Regions from separate parts of the Homo sapiens genome. Here region 2 is linked to region 1. Evidence: fine-mapped expression QTL. A gene starts in region 1. The other region holds a variant in brackets. All regions are shown on one strand. Distances are from middle to middle. Region 1 holds the start of ASXL1 (ASXL transcriptional regulator 1). Region 2 overlaps KIF3B (kinesin family member 3B).

Region 1 (8,332 bases):
CCGCGCACAGCCTACAAAAACAATTTTTAAAAGGATTCCCAGTAACACTCTAGTCACCAATCTGAGTGGGGTCAGGAGCAATCTGAAAGCGTTCCCATGGAAGTGCATACAATTGCCATTGCAAGCACTCCAAATTCACCTGCCCAAAGAGAAGTGTTCAGGTGTTCTAATCAACTGTCCTACGTTCCCTCCTAGTCAAGTTTCTCTCAGTCCAGTGTACGCTCTCACAAATTCTCCAGTACAGTGTTACAGCAACTTTTTTTAAACATTAAGAGGACTGGTTTTTTCTTTTGTTTTGTTTTTGAGACAGAGTCTCACTGTCGCCGCTGGAGTGCAGTGGTGTGATCTGGGTTCACTGCAACCTCCACCTCCCGAGTTCAAGTGATTCTCCTGCCTCAGCCTCCCGAGTAGCTGAGGTTACAGGCATGCACCATCACCATGCCTGGCTAATTTTTGTATTTTTAGTAGAGACGGGGTTTCACCATGTTGGCCAGGCTGGTCTCGAACTTCTGGCCTCAGGTGATCCGTCTGCCTCGGCCTCCCAAAGAGCTGGGATTACAGGCGTGAGCCACCGTGCCCGGCCTGGGACTCTTAAAAAGTTCCCCCTCACCTACCATCCAGTCCCATTCAAAGAAATGGAAAATTCTAAAACAAAAAACACACACAAGATACTCAAATTGCATATCACATTCTCAACAAGTCCTTTTTCTTTTTTTCTTTTTTTTTTTTTTTTGAGACGAGTCTTGCTCTGTCACCCAGGCTGGACAGTGGCATGGCCTTGGCTCTCTGCAACCTCCACCTCCCAAGTTCAAGTGATTCTCCTGTCTCAGCCCCCTCAGTAGCTGGGATTACAGGCGTGCACCACCACACCCGGCTAATTTTTGTATTTTTAGTAGAGACTGGGTTTTACCTTGTTGGCCAAGCTGGTCTAGAACTCCTGACCCTGTGATCCACCCACCTCGGCGTCCCAAAGTGCTGGGATTACAGGCGTGAGCCACAGCGCCCAGCCTCATTATTTTTTTAGAGTCAGGGTCTCCCTCTATCACCCAGGCTGGAGTGCAGTGGTACAATCAATCATTGGGCACTGCAGCCTCCAACTCCTCGGCCTAAGCTATCCTCAGCCTCCTGAGTAGCTAGGACCACAGGTGTGTACCACCATGCCCAGCTCATTTTGTTGCTGTTGTTGTAGAGACCGGGTCTATGTTGCCCAGGCTCATCTCGAATTCCTAGCCTCAAGTGATTATTCCACCTCAGACTCCCAAAGTCTCGCAAATCCTTTTTCACATGTATAACAGCACCACAAAGTAATTCCTACTCATAGGCTGGGCGCGGTGGCTCACGCCTGTAATCCCAGCACTTTGGGAGGCCAAGGTGGGCGGATAACCTAAGGTCACGAGTTCGAGACCAGCCTGACCAGCATGGAAAAACCCCATCTTTACTAAAAATAAAAAATTAGCCGGGTGTGGTGGCAAACAAACGAAAAACAAACAAACAAAGTAATTCCTATTCATATTACTATTTTTAATGAAGAGCCTTAGAAGAAAAAGAGGAATAACTTACCCTGATAACCTGGCTTGAAGTTGAGTCAATGATAAAACAGAAATAGCAACCTCGATGTTGAAGTTCAGACCACGGTAAATTCGAGAATCTAAAGAGACTTAACAGTGGACCCCAAATTCCTAAAGTCAACTAGTAAGAGCCAACAGAACTTTGAGACAAACAGATTTCATAATTCTGTCAAGACATAAATAACACAAGACTTAAAAGTACTTTCACCTACCTCTAACAAGTAAAACTCTGGCAAGCAAATTTCCTTGGGTGCCCAGGGTCATAAACACCCGCATAACAGGAACGCCAAGGAGAATGTCAATGAACACACAAAACTCATTGTCGAGGAGGAGAACGAGAGCTCTCTCCCACTCCCCATCAGGCCTATATTTGTTTCCAGGTGCAGAACCGTTAGAGAAATCCTGAAATTTCTACAAGATCCTGAAAACTAGCCCAAGCTTCCAATTTTGACTCAATCAGAAAAAAAATATTTCGGAACCTCAAAATCTTCAAACTTCACATGCCAGGCCAAAATAAACTGAAGCACAAAACTTCAGCATACAAACAATTGCTATTTTTGTTCCCTGGGCAACAAATGACTAGGGAAGAGGATAGCAAGCACCAATGAAAATTCTGTAGCCCAAATTCCTTCAGTTTTTATAAATCTGTAACTTTTACAGACTTCGAGAAAGAAAAAGGTGTACTTCAGGTTTGTGTCAACCCCCCCAATACAGTCTATTTTTTTTTTTTTTGCACAACACCTTTGAAGCAGAAAACTCACTTCAAAATAAGAGAGAAAATTAAGTCTGAGCTTCACTCATCATTAAAACTGAATTACAACCATTACATATAAACTACAGTGTCAAGAGACACTTATGCTATCCGCACCACAACCTCGCTGTGTGACAGATCTTAGGAACTGACATCTTAGTATAACCTGTTACTACTGGTATCAGCAGATAATTACCCGAATATGTCTCAAAGTGTCTGAGCTTTGTGGGAGTAATCCAAAAGGAAGCTATTTCACCTGCAAGTCCTCTGACGCTCTGAACACAAAATTCACAACCCCCATCGGTTGAACGAGACGGCTTCAAACACTCAAGTTACGCTCTCCCTTGCTAAATCCTCAGTGAACAACGTCTCCCAACAGAGATACTTTGTCTTTGTCCAACATACATTCTTTGCAAAGTGGATTCAGTTCTCCTCAAAATACCAATTTCCAGTCCAGCTTCTGAAGGCAAACAGCCCAGTCTGCGTTTCTCAAAGTGGGGTCCGTGAGCCACTGCGTTTGAATCACCTGGGAAGCTGGTGAAAGCGCAGATTCCCAGGCTCTATCCCAGACCCTGAGGCTCAGCAGGTCTTACGAAGGGCCCTAGGAGTAGCGTTCCTAACCGCCTCCCAGGTGTCGCCCACAGGACACTAAAGTTAGAGAACCGCTGCTCAGGGTTCAAGCTGGGAGTAAGCACTTGCTTCCCTCCACGCACCTGGTTTAGATTGGGAAAGCTCAACATGCCATTGGCGTCCTTGAATGTGGGGTCGCTTTTCCACCCCCGGAGTCAAAGGCACCACCCCATTACCCACCAGGAAGCGAGGGAGGAGCTTCCGACCCTTCCCGGAAACCCAACTCCCCCGGGTGAATGAACGAAGCTGCCCCAGACCCCCAGACGCTGCCAAATAGTGGGGGAGGGGACGCGGGACCCCGCTGCCCAGAGTGGGAGGAGCCGGCCTGCCAGCTCGCCCCTCCGCCGGAATTTAGCTGCGCGGGGCGGGGGGGGCGCGAGGGCGAGCGGAAAAAGGCGCCACATCCCATCCCGGCGGAGCGCTCCCCACCCCTCGCCTTGCGGGGCTGTCCCGTTCTTAAAGGAAGATGGCCCCGCCCCCTCCCGCGGTGGGCAGGGCCTTGCCCCTCCCCCCCCAGTGGGGGGGTGCGCGGCGAGCCCCCCCCACCCCGGGCCCCACGGAGCCCCCCTCGGCTGTCCGCCTCACCAGGCGCGCGGCCTCGGCCCACGTGCGCTCCTTCTTCTTCTTCTGTTTGTCCTTCATCCTTCTCCCCGGCGGCGGCGGCAGCTCCACGCGGGACCTCCGGGCTGGGCGGGCTGGGGCGGTGGCGCGGGGCTGGGGCGGCGGCGGCGGTGGGGGGGGCGCGTGGCAGCGGCGGCGCGCGAGGTCTCGGGTGCGGCCGGGGAGAAGGGGCGGGCACGCGGGGACCGGCTGGCGCGAGAGCGGCGGTGGGGGAGGGGCGGCGGCGGCTCCACGCGCCCGCGCTGCGTCAGTCGCCCACGGCGGCAGCGGCGGCTGCCCCGCGATCGCTAAGGAATGCGGCGGCTCCGCATAACCACGGGGTCAGAGGTCACGGCTCCGGCCTCCGCTTTCCCGCTCTGCTGAGGGACTGAGACAGGACCGACGGCGGGGCGGGAGGGCGAGACGCGGCTTTCCCTTCGGCGCCCGGGTGCGTGCGTGTCTGCCGTGGGTGTGTGTGAGTGTGTGTGAAGAGTGAGGAGGGGGAGTGTGGGGTTTTTTTTTTTTGAACAAAAACAAACCGAAAGGGCGCCTGGGAGTCGTAGTCCCAACGGCCTCTCTGGCCTCCCCCGCTCCGGAAGAATATGGCCGCGTGAAGCGCGTGGACCACACTTCCCGGCGTGCCCGGCGGCCCCCTTCCGCTCTCCCTCTCGCGTCCTCCGCCTAGCACCGACCTCAGCTAGGAACGGGGACGGGTCGCTGTTCGGGGAAGGGGCTGGGTGGAGTCTCGCGAGGTGCGAGAACTGGCTGGGGGCCTGCGGGATTCTGGGAGGCGATGCTGGGAAGGGGCGGTGGCTGGGCTCCCCCGGCCACCCTTAACCCCTTCGGTGCTTTTTGCTTCAGGACCTCCTGGCGGGTGCGGGTGGGGAGTGAGGATGGGGAGCTCGACTCGCAGTTCCCACTTCGTGCTTCTCCTCGCCTAAACGGTTCTTACCTACACTTCTCGTAGGGGACGAGAGGCAGGACTTTCCCTTTTGGTCACCTCTAAATGACTCACTGCCACATAATAATGAGACAAAAAGACCCTCATACCAGTAAAACGGTTATTCCACGGCTGATGGACTTAGACGGTTCTTCATTTCTTCCTGTGCTTTCAGGCCGCTGTGTATTTGCAGAGCCTGCACCAGCAGCCTAGAGCGTTCTTAGGAACTTGGTGATATGTTGACGGGTCGTGTAAAGAACTTGGACTCTGGGGCCATACTGACCAGAATGCACCTGAGGGCGTTTTTAGAGGCAGTACCCTGGAGAGAATTCAGGCCCTGGAGTCCAGCGGACCTAGACTGGAATCTTGGCTGAGTCACTCCCTGGCTGTCCACTCAACCTCTCTGAGCCTCAGTTTTCTGATCTGCATTTGTCTTGTATTTCATGGCATTATTGGAATTAAAATTAACATACAATTCTTGACAGATTGGAAGAGGATGTGAAGGGAGATCTTGACATTATCAGGTCCGTATGATATGGCGCCTGGCATAGAGCAAATGTTTAATAAATGGTAGCTGTTATTACCAGCTGAGAAACAATAGGCAATATACTTAGCCTCTCTGAGCCTTAGTTTTAGAACCTGAAATGAAATTCAGAGCGCCCAGCACATAGGTTTTCTGTAACTATAGGTTCAGTCGTTGTCCAGAAACATTTCTAGAGTCCGTCCGGAGTTGGATTGATGCCAGCTCTTAAAAACTATGAAGGCAGGATCAGTGGCCACATTTAAACGGTTTCCCTGGGTGAGGAAACACACTCTCCACTCCCTAATGTTAACACGTAGCGAGAGCCAGTATTGATAGGAGACCATTATGGTGTAGCCCAAACTCTAACGCCAAGGGGTTCAGTGTTTTCTGCTTCTAATACTGGTCACAGAAAACTTGTGAGTCCGGTAAGCAAAATCCTACAAAGGGAAAAGACTGCAAGTTAGAATAAGACACCTCTTAAAAATCTCTCTAGCTTTACCCTGAGAGAAAGGAGGAACTACTGTCCCTCAAAAAACTGTTTGCCTTGATTTTTTACAAAGGATTTTTAACTTCTTTTTTTTCAATCTACGGCTGATACAGTACTCTTTGGCAAGTCATTTGGCTTCTTTCCGATGTCTTCTGAAGTAGCTTTACTGCCCTCTGACCTACAGGGAATAACTGAAATTTACATGTTTAATACAGGTACTGTGGTAGACAGAATAATGTCTTCCCCGCTTGCCCAAAACTGTCCAAGTCCTAGTCCCTGGAACCTGTGAATATGTTGCTTTTTTATTTATTTATTTATTTATTTTTTGAGACAGAGTCTCGCTGTGTTACCCAGGCTGGAGTGCAGTGGCGTGATCTTGGCTAACTGCAACCTCCGCCTCCTGGGTTCATGCGATCCTCCTGCCTCAGCCTCCCAAGTAGCTGAGATTACAGGCATGCGCTACCATGCCCAGCTAATTTTTGTATCTTTAGTAGTGACTGGGTTTCTCCATGTTGGCCAGGCTGGTCTTGAACTCCTGACCTCAGGTGATCCACCCATCTCGGCCTCCCAAAGTGCTGGGATTACCAGCCAGCATTCTTTGGCAAAAGATATTTTGCCAATGGAAATAAAGCCCTTAAAATTAGATGATTCCGTATTATATGGGTGAGCCCAGTGTAATCACATGAACCCTTAAAAGCACAAAAGGGAGGCAAAAGAGATGTTTTGGAGAGATGAGGCAGAGGAATTAAATTCAAAGTATGAGAGGAATTCAACCCACTGTTACTGGCTTTGAAAGTGGCCACAAGCCAGGGAATCCAGGCAGCCTCCAAAAGCTCAGAGGAAGTCCTGCCAAGAGCCAGCAAGGAAATGGGGACTTCAGTCCTACAACCTCACAGAGCTGAATTCTGACAAGCTGAATGAACTTGGGAACAGATTATACCCCCTCCCCAACTCTCTAGAAAGGAATATAGACACCTTGATTTCAGCCTCGTGAGACTGGAAGCAGAGAATCAGCTGAGCCATGGAATCCAGACGTCGGGCCCACAAGAAGCGTGAAACAGAAATGAATATTGTTTTATGACACTAAATCTGTGGTAACTTCTTACAGCCCCAAAAGAAAGCTAATACAGGCATTATGGAAACACCTTTATTTCTTTCAGCGAACACTGCCTGACTTCAGCTGGGTCAAACCATGGGGGAATCCAGATTTGAATATTTCAAGGTCTCTGCCCTTGCAGAATCAGACAGAAACAAGTGACAACATCGTAGTTAAGTGTGAAAACAGTATGTTCAGAGAACGGTACAGATATGTTAGAAAGTTGGCTTTAGTCATTAAACCTTAAGTAGATGTGATTTTTTTAAAGTTAATGAGATTCATGAGTTTATTTTCTTGTCAGAAGCACCAACAGACAAACCTATACATTTTTGGTGTGTGTTTTTCTGTTTTTTAATCACAGTGCTTTTATTATAGATTATCTTCAGAAGTTAGTGCAGGTGGCATGTGGAAGATAAACAGGACAGACACTCAACCCTGCCTAGTTTGGGGATGAGTCACTTTTCAAACTGCACAGTTATAAGCAAAGTGCATATTCAAGAACCAAGTTAACAGGCCACCAGCAGACACCCAGGAATTCCCAAAGGGACACATATATCCCATAAACTGCACTGCAAGATAATATATTCTCATTGGCTCTGCATGTCAGCAGGCCTGGGTTTGAATCTCTGCAGTCTTTCTCCATCCAGTTCTGTGGCCTTGGGCAAGTTATGAAACCTCTCACTGACTCAGTGCCGTCATTTGGACAGCAGGGTACATAGCAAATTCAAAGAATGGAACTGAGATTAAATGAGATCTCTGTAAAGTGCCTAGCACATAGCAGATACTCACTAAATACCAGCCCTCTTTGCCTCCAAAAAGTTTTAGTGTCTAAAGTGTAAAAAGTGCCTCATTGTTTATACTTTGAGTGAAAGAAACCTTGGAACAGGGTTTGCCCCTGTAACAAATGTTCTCTCTCAATAATATTATCCCCGTTTTCACATGAAGCTGAGATTCAGAGAGGTCAGATTACCTCCCTTGGGTCCAGATGATTAAATAAGATTACATTTGCTAAATAAACTTCCAGCATAGCAGATGATCAGTACATGTATAGCTCTCCTTGTCCCTCCCACATTTAATTTATTTGTGTGACTTTGGTTTAGTGATTGTGTTCATGCTAGCATCTTTGGTTTCATCATCATATCCCCAGTGCCTGGCACAGTCTTGGCACATGGTAGGCACCCAATCTGTTGAATAAATGACCCGATCTCCGTAATTACTTTACTGGAGAAACTCTGAAGACTAATTTCCCTTTGAGCCCTAAACAATGTTTGGAACCTGCTCAGGGAGAATCGGGAAAGACCAAGACAGGATTTCACCCAAATATATCTATGCAAGTTATAAAGATGCTCATGGATAGAGAGCATGACTTCAGCTGGGCGTGGCAGCATGTGCCTATAGTCCCAGCTACTCAGGAGGCTGAGGCAGGAGGATCATTTGAGCCCAAGAGTTTGAGGCTGCAGTGAGCCATGGTTGCGCCATTGCACTCCAGCTTGGGTGACAGAGCAAGACCCTGTATAGGAGACTTCATGACCTTATTATTGTCATTAAGTCACAGAATCTGCCCATGTGATGGGCAGCCCTAACTCATAGCTCACCTTCCATTCACCATCGTTTAAATCCTGCTGTTCAGTCTCCCAGTAGGGAGGAAAACGTGTTTAAATTACCAAAATGTCTTTTTCGTTTGTTTGAGACAGGGTCTCTCTGTTGCCTACACTGGAGTGCAATGGTGCAATCTCA
Region 2 (8,332 bases), 42 kb after region 1:
TTATTCCAACATTATTTCATTTATAAACTTATATGAAAGGTCCAGAAAAGGCAAATCTAGATACAATACCAAAAGTAAAATAAACAAAAGAAAATACAATTAAATTGGGCTATATCACAACGGAAATCTTTTGTGCTATAAGTAATACCATCAAGAAAGTTTAAAAACAACTCAGAATAACAGAAAGCATCTTCAAATCATGAATCTCATGAGAAAGTGGTATTCATAATATATTAATATAAAGAACTCTTAAAACTCAGCCGGGCACAGTGGCTCACGCCTGTAATCCTAGCATTTTGGGAGGCTGAGGCGGGTGGATCACCTGAGGTCAGGAGTTCCAGACCAGCCTGGCCAAGATGGTAAAACCCCGTCTCTACTAAAAATACAAAAATTAGCTGGGCATGGTGGCACATGCCTATAGTCCCAGCTACTCGGGAGGCTGAAGCAGGACAATCACTTGAACCCAGGAGGCAGAGGCTGCAGTGAGCTAAGATCATGCCATTGCACTCCAGCCTGGGTGACAGACCCAGACTCTGTCTCAAAAAAAACTCTTAAAACTTAATTATTGGCTGGACATGGTGGCTCATGCCTGTAATCCAAGCACTTTGGGATGCCAAGGCAGGTGGATCACCTGAGGTTAGGAGTTCAAGACCAGCCTGGGCAACATGGTGACACCCCATCTCTACTAAAAATACAAAAATCAGCCGGGCATGGTGGCGGGTGCCTGTATTCCCAGCTATTCGGGAGGCTGAGGCATGAGAATCGCTTGAACCCAGGAGGCAGAGGTTGCAATGAGTCAAGTTCACGCCATTGCATTCCAGCCTGGATGACAGAGCGAGACTCCAACTCCAAAAAAAAAAAAAAAAAAAACAAAAACAAAACAAAAAAAAACTATATATATACACATATGTGTGTGTGTGTGTGTATGAAATATATATATTTCATATATATACGAAATATATACATATATATATATATGAAACAACCCCATTTTAAAATGGGGTAAAGGATTTGTATAGATATTTCTCCAAAGACATACAAATGGCCAATAAGCCCGTGAAAGGATGCTCAACATCATTAGTCATCAGAGAAATATGCAAATCAAAACTATAATGAAGTACCATTTCACACTCGTTAGGATGTCTATGATAAAAGAGACAGGAAATAACAAGTGTCGACAAGGATGTGGAGAGGCCGGGCATGGTGGCTCACACTTGTAATCCTAGCACTTTGGGAGGCTAAGTCGGGCAGACTGCTTGAGCCCAGGAGTTTGAGACCAGCCTAGGCAACATGGTGAAACCCCATCTCTACAAAAAACACAAAAATTAGCCAAGTAGGGTGGCATGCCGCTATAGTCCCAGCTATTCCAGAGGTTGAGGTGGGAGGATCGCTTGAGCCCAGGAGGTGGAGGTTGCAGTGTGCTGAGACTGCACCTCTGCACACCAGCCTGGGTGGCAGAACGAGACTGTCTCAAAGAAAAAAAAAAAAAAGAAGATGTGGAGAAATTGGTGGTAGAAATGTAAAATAGTGCAGCCACTGTGGCAAACAGTTTGGCATTCTCTCAAAAAGTTAAACACTGAGTTACCATATGACCCAGCAATTCCACTCCTATGAATGTATCCCAGAGAAATGAAAACACACATCCATACAAAACCTTATACATGAATGCTTATAGAAGTATTATCCATAATAGCCAAAGACTAGAAATAATCGGAATGTATATAAACTGAAAAATAAATAAATATGTGTCCTATTCATACAGTGCAATATTATTCAGTCATAATAAAGAACAATTGATGTTGGGACTACCAGATATCTGTTGATCCATGCTACGGCATGGACGATCCTTGAAAGCGTCATGCTAAGCAAAAGACACCAGGCCAAAAAGGCCACACAGTGTGTGATTCCATTTATATGAGATGGCCAGAATAGGCAAAGCCATAGAGACAGGAAGCAGATTAGTGATTACTTCGGGTTGGGAAAGGGGGTAATGAGGAGTGACTACTAACTGGTAGAGTTTCTTTTAGAGGAGAGTAATAAAAATGTTCTAAAATTAGATTGTAGTGGTGGTTTTATAGCCCTATGCATATATATGCTTTTAAAAAAACACTGATTTGTATACTTTATCATTTTTTAATTTTTTTTTTTTTGAGACAAGAATCTCGCTGTGTCACCCAGGCTTGAGTAAAGTGGTGTGATCTCAGCTCACTGCAACCTCCGCCTCCCAGGTTCAAGAGATTCTCCTGCCTCAGCCTCCTGAGTAACTGGGATTACAGGTACACGCCATCACACCCAGCTAATTTTTGGATTTTTAGTAGAGACGGGGTTTCACCATGTTGGCCAGGCTGGTCTTGAACTCCTGGCCTCAGGTGATCCACCTGCCTCGGCCTCCCAAATGCTGGGATTACAGGCATGAGCCACCATGCCCGGACTGATTTGTACACTTTAAATATGTGAATTGTATGGTATGTGAAGTATGTCTCAATTAAGCTTTTTTAAAAACAGTATTGTGGGCTGGGTGTGGTGGCTCACACCTATAATCCCAGCACTTTGGGAGGCTGAAACAGGAGGATTGCTTGAGCCTAGGAGTTTGAGATCAGCTTAGGTAACATAGAGAGACTCTATCTCTATAAAATTTTTTTTAAAAATTAGCTGGGCATAGTGGCACACACCTGTAGTTCCAGCTACCCGGGAGGCTAAGGTGGGAGGACTGTTTGAGCCCACAAGTTACAGGCTGCTGTGAACTGTGATTGTGCCACTGCACTCCAGCCTGGGTGATAGAGCAAAACTCTGTCTCAAAAAAAAAAAAAACCACTGTGATCATATATATATATATATAAGTATGTAGGAGTGAGATAACATGAGGTTAAGATTTGCTTTAAAATATTTTTGTGAAAGATAGATGGCAAAAGCTTGTTAATCCTTGAATCTGGGTGATGGGTACTTGGGTATTTATTATACCATTCAGAAAATTGTCACAATAAAAAGTCAAGTTAATAAAATATTCCCTCTTATCATCAGACAGATGTAAGACCAGAATCTTTAAAAGCTTCGAGAAGGTAGGGTTAGAAGGGAACTTGGAGATCACCTGATGAAGTCATTCAGTTAACAGATGGGATCCAGAGATGGAAAGTGACTTTTTCAGGAATGAACAGAACATGGGGTGGCAGGAGATGAGCTGGAGAAGGACCTGTCCTCAGGGCTATTTCTTTTTTTGTGTTTTTTTCTCACTCCGTCGCCCAGGCTGGAGTGCAGTGGCACGATATCAACTCACCGCAATCTCCACTTCCCGGGTTCAAGCGATTCTCCTATCTCAGCCTCCCAAGTAGCTAGGACTACAGGCATGCACCACCACGCCCAGCTAATTTTTGTATTTCTTAGTAGAGACGGGGTTTCACCATGTTGGTCAGGCTGGTCTCGAACTCCTGACATCAGGTGATCTGCCCGCCTCCGCTTCCCAAAACACTGGGATTACAGGCGTAGGCCACCAAGCCCAGCCAGGGCTGTTTCTAACTAAACAAACGAGATCAATGACTCAGCAAGTGGCTTGGGGGCACTATGGAAGGCCTGGCACTTACTTGAGTTTCAGCTCCCTGGTGAGCTCATTCTGAGTCTGCTCTAGCTCTTGGCGCTCCTTGATGTGTTCTTCTTGGAGGTCATGGATCTCAGCCTTCACTGCCTGAAGCTTGGAGAAGAGCTGGAATGAGGGGAGAGGCAGGTGAGGAGGGTGTCTGTCCAAAGGGTAGAGTTCTCCCTTTCCCCAAGTCTCAAGGCAACTCCATCTGGCCTCATTCCTTTCATACCTTTTTGAGTTTTTTGGTCTTGATGTCCACCTCTTGCTGCAATGAGCTGTATGTCTCTTTAAGTTCCAAGGTCTCCTCATCTCGACTTTCCATCTGTTGCTGGATTTCTCTTTCTCGACGTTTCTGAGCAACATGACAAAATTCATCAGCTTGCCCTAGAGACTGTGTCTATGCTGGGTTCCCCAAGCTAGGATCAGAGTCTCCAGCTAGGATGAGGCAGACACACCTTGCTCTCATTCTCTTTGAAGAGAGTCTAATATGAGACGTTTGCTCTGCAGCATAAACACACCTTACCTCACCCATTCTCCCTGAAAAAGAATGAAAAGTTACCTGCTCTGCAATTTCCTGTCGTTTCTGCTCCAGGATTTTCTGCTGTTCATTCGTATGATCTACTATATTTTTTCCTCCAACAAGCAACTTACTCTCCATGGCCTGAGTGAGAAACAAAGTAGAATCCATCTCATGAACGGTTTCTCTCAGAACATAATTCCTCACAGGGGAGCCTGTGAAAGATAAAGAGCTCAGGACTGAGCCAAAAGGGACAAACTCTGGGAAAAAATACACTGTGCTCAGCTGTGCCCATCCATCACTGGTGAGGGACTGGGGCAGCTTCACTAGAGGCTTCTTGGTAACACTGAAGATACAGTTTCTTCAGATACATGAATTTCAGCTTTAACAAATTTTTTTTTTTTGCTTGTTTCTACAAAGTATTAACCCCACTTAGAACATATTAAGCAGACCCTTTATGTTAGGTCCTGGGGATGCAATGTGAGTGTGAATCACAAAGCTCCGAGTCCACTGAGGAAAACAGACAAGCAAGCAGGCTTTAACCATATGG[C/T]GCCAGATGCCATCATGAGGAAAGGACACAGTAATTCATGGGAGAGGCACACTGATGGGATAGAATTCAGACTCTGTGGGGATTTTTTAAAATTTTTTAAAGACAGGGTCTAGTTCTGTCACCCAAGCTGGAATGCGGTGGCACGATCACAGCTCACTGCAGCCTTGACCTCCTTAGTTCAAGCAATCCTCCCACCTCAGCCTCCCAAGCAGCTGGGACTACAGGTGTACACCACCACACTTGGCTGATTGGTTGATTGACTGATTGATTGTAGAGGTGAAATCTTGCTATGTTGTCTGGGCTGGTCTTGAATTCCTGGCCTCAAGAGATCCTCTGCCTTGGCCTCTCAAACTGCTGGGATTATAGGCATGAGCACAGCGCCCAGTCAGAGAATTCAGACTTTTAGAGGGAGTCAGAGAAAGCTTTCTGTCTGCAGGGCCAGATACACAGACAGCTGAAGTTAAAAAATAGGAATTAGGTAAGAAAAAAAGATTGTTTTGTGAGGGGAAGGTGGGAAGTGATGAAGTTGACCTAAATCCCTGTCAAGGAGACTAAACTTCTTGATCCTGAGAAGTTCGGGGAACCACTGACATATTCTTTTGAGCATGAGGCTACACAATCAGATGTGTGTTTTAGAAACATTACTCCCCTGCAATGGGAAGCATGGCAAAGGACTGGCAGGATGGAGGGAGACATGACAGGAAGCCACTGCAGGGGTCTAGGCCTGGGCTAGGCCTCCTCCCTAGTTGGGGAGGGCAGAGTAGATGAGTCCAAGAGACCCTGATGAGGCAGGATCCAAAGGCTTTGGGACGGCCTGGCTGTAAGTGAGAGGGAGTGGCTGCTGGCAAGGATAACTCCCAGGGGTCTGGCTTCCCTGAGATAAGGAAGGCAAGAGCAGGCTCTGAGTGGCTGTGAGCATCCCAGTGGGCAGAAGGTTATTGGGCCTGGATGGCAGGAGACAGTGCTAGGCTAGACATACAATGGGCCTGGATGGCAGGAGACAGTGCTAGGCTAGATATACAGATTGGGAGCCTTCAGCATTTTGATAGGGGCTGAAGCCATGAGAATGATTTTGACCTAAAAAGTATGGGACCCCAAAACTGCACAACTTTTAAGAAACTTATAAACCTCACTGGAGCTCTGCTGCCATCTTTCAGTGAGTCCTCTGAGCCTGTTTCCTCACCTCTCGAATGAAGGGGCTGGACTAGATTGCTAAACTCCACATACATACCTAACAATACCTAACCACTCTAACATTCTTTTTTTTTTTTTTAGATGGAGTCTCGCTTTGTCGCCCAGGCTGGAGTGCAGTGGCATGATCTTGGCTCACTGCAACCTCTGCCTCCCAGGTTCAAGCAATTCTCGTGCCTCAGCCTCCCAAGTAGCTGGAACTACAGGTGCATGCCACCACACCCAGCTAATTTTTGTATTCTTAGTAGAGACAGGGTTTCACCATGTTGGCCAGGCTGGCCTTGAACTCCTGACCTCAAGGGATCCACCTGCCTGGGCCTCCCAAAGTGTTGGGATTACAGGCGTGAGCCACCGCGCCCAGCCTCTAACATTCTTTTATGATTTCACAGCATCCAGGGATTGAGAAAGACAGAAATAATGTCATTCTCCATAGTCAAAATGTCTAAGAGATGCAGTGACCTTAAGATGATGCTGAATCTTGCAGACTCAGCCTCTGAGAGTTCAACTTTCTCTGAGGGGTTGTTTAGAGAATCTAGGTGCTCCTGGCCTTGAATAACAGATCTGATCCTAAAAGACAGTATGCAAGTCAAATATGGGCATACCCAGGCCGGACATAAGGGTGCGGTGGCTCACGCCTGTAATCCTGACACTTTGGGAGACTAAGGTGGAAGGATTGCTTGAGTCTAGGAGTTCAAGACCAGCCTAGGCAACATAGTGAGACCTTGTCTTTACAGAAAATCAACAAAATTAGCTGGGCATGGCAGTGCACACCTGTAGTCCCAGATACTCGAAGGCTGAGGTGGGAAGATTGCTTGAGCCTGGGAGGTCAAGGCTGCAGTGAGCCAAGATCACGCCACTGCACTCCAACCTGGGTGACAGAGTGAGACCCTTTCTCAAAACAAAACAAAACAAAACAAAATATGGGCACAGCCAGTCGCGCTTACTGTGCAGCAGTGAGAAGGCATGAAGTGCTTTGACATAATGGCATCTCAGAACCCCTCCCTGGAACAAAGTTACCTCCTAATTGTGTTGTATACGACTCCATTTTCACATCAGGTCTTAAAAGTGCTAGAAGGGACTTTCAAGGTTTTAAAACCCTGCCTCTGAAGTAAAATAGCACCCAGCTCTGTGAAAGGGCTACTATGAAGCCACTGATTAAAACAAACAAACAAAAAAACAGTACAGCTTCATACAGTAGGGGTAGGAGGGAGGCAAAGATAACTTGTAATTTTAAAATTTATAAACATGGAGACATTTTAGGATAGAAATCAAAGTTTGCATGAATTCAATAAAACAGAACTGAACATTTCCAAGGAATTCTGCCTTGTGGTTAGCCAGTGGCCATCCTCAGCCTTCCAAGTCTACCTTTGCACTCTCCTCTGCCATTAAAGCCCAGTGGAAGCTCAGAGTCCAGGCAACTGCAGGCATAGTGCATTGCCACCAGAAAGAAGGCTCAAAACAATGGGAGCCTCAGCACTCCAGAATGCTAACTAGCCATTGGGTGGAAAATGGAATGGATGTAAAGAAATATATTAGCACACAGGGGTTGGGAGAGGAGGCTGACTATAAGAAAGTAGCATGAGGACATTTTGGGGGTGATGGAAGTGTTCCTTATCTTGTGTAATCAGGGTACTGCATACTGAAACTGCACTGAGAGGCTATACTATATGCAAATGTTAGTCTGATCATCACAAGTGCTGGTAAGGATGCGGGGCATCCAGAACTGATACCCTGCTGCGAGGTGTTTCAATCTGCACAACCACTTTAGAAAACAACTTGTCCTTGTCTAGAGAAGTTGAAGCTGCAAATACCCTAAGACCTAACAGTGCCAAACAAGACAATCTTGCACGTCCATGTTCTCCTGAAGCCAAGCACAAGAGCATTCACAGCAGAAACTGGAAACAACCCATACACCAGGAGAATGGAATACCATGGAATACTTGGAACAGTAATAATGAGTGAACCACAGCTTCAGGCATCAACATGGATAAATCTCATGAACGTAATGTTGCAAAAATAAAAGCAAATGGCATGAGTGGGATTCCATTTACATAAAAGCAAAAAATTATATGAAAACGAAACCATGTTTTCTTTAGAAATATACATGTAGAAAGTAAAACTATAAGGAAAAGCAAGGAAACAATAAACACCGAATTCAGGATGATGGTTATCTGTTGGGGAGGGAAACGCAAGGAGCTACTAAAGATATAGGTATCAGCTGGGTGCAGTGGCTCACGCCTGTAATCCCAGCACTTTGGGAGGGGGAGGTGGGAGAATCATTCGAGCCCAGGAGTTTGAGACCAGCCTGAACAACATAGTGAGACCATGTCTCTACAAAAAATTTAAAAAATTTAGCCAGGCAAAGTTGCGTGCCTGTAGTCCTAGCTACTTGGGAGGCTGAGGTGGGAGGATCCTTTGAGCCTAGGAGGTCAAGGCTGCAGTGATTGGGCCACTGCACTCCAGGGTTGACAGAGCAAGATCCTGTCTCAAAAAAAAAAAA

The links. PIP is the estimated chance that this variant, and not a neighbour inherited with it, causes the effect.
Region 2: its variant is fine-mapped to the expression of ASXL1 in whole blood (INTERVAL, PIP 0.98).

The regions. Positions count from the first base shown.
Region 1 is chr20:32,354,035-32,362,366 of GRCh38, reverse strand. It overlaps ASXL1 (ASXL transcriptional regulator 1), which reads right to left and starts at 4,036. Exons shown (of 13, transcript NM_015338.6): 1 at 3,535-4,036. The coding sequence starts at 3,591. RefSeq lists silencers at 3,337-3,496, 3,737-3,786, 6,735-6,804.
Region 2 is chr20:32,312,121-32,320,452 of GRCh38, reverse strand. It overlaps KIF3B (kinesin family member 3B), which reads right to left. Exons shown (of 9, transcript NM_004798.4): 3 at 4,134-4,235; 4 at 3,804-3,926; 5 at 3,579-3,697. Among named protein-coding and RNA genes, the nearest start is that of KIF3B, 39 kb to the right of the region's middle. The variant C/T (reference allele first, on the strand shown) is at 4,642.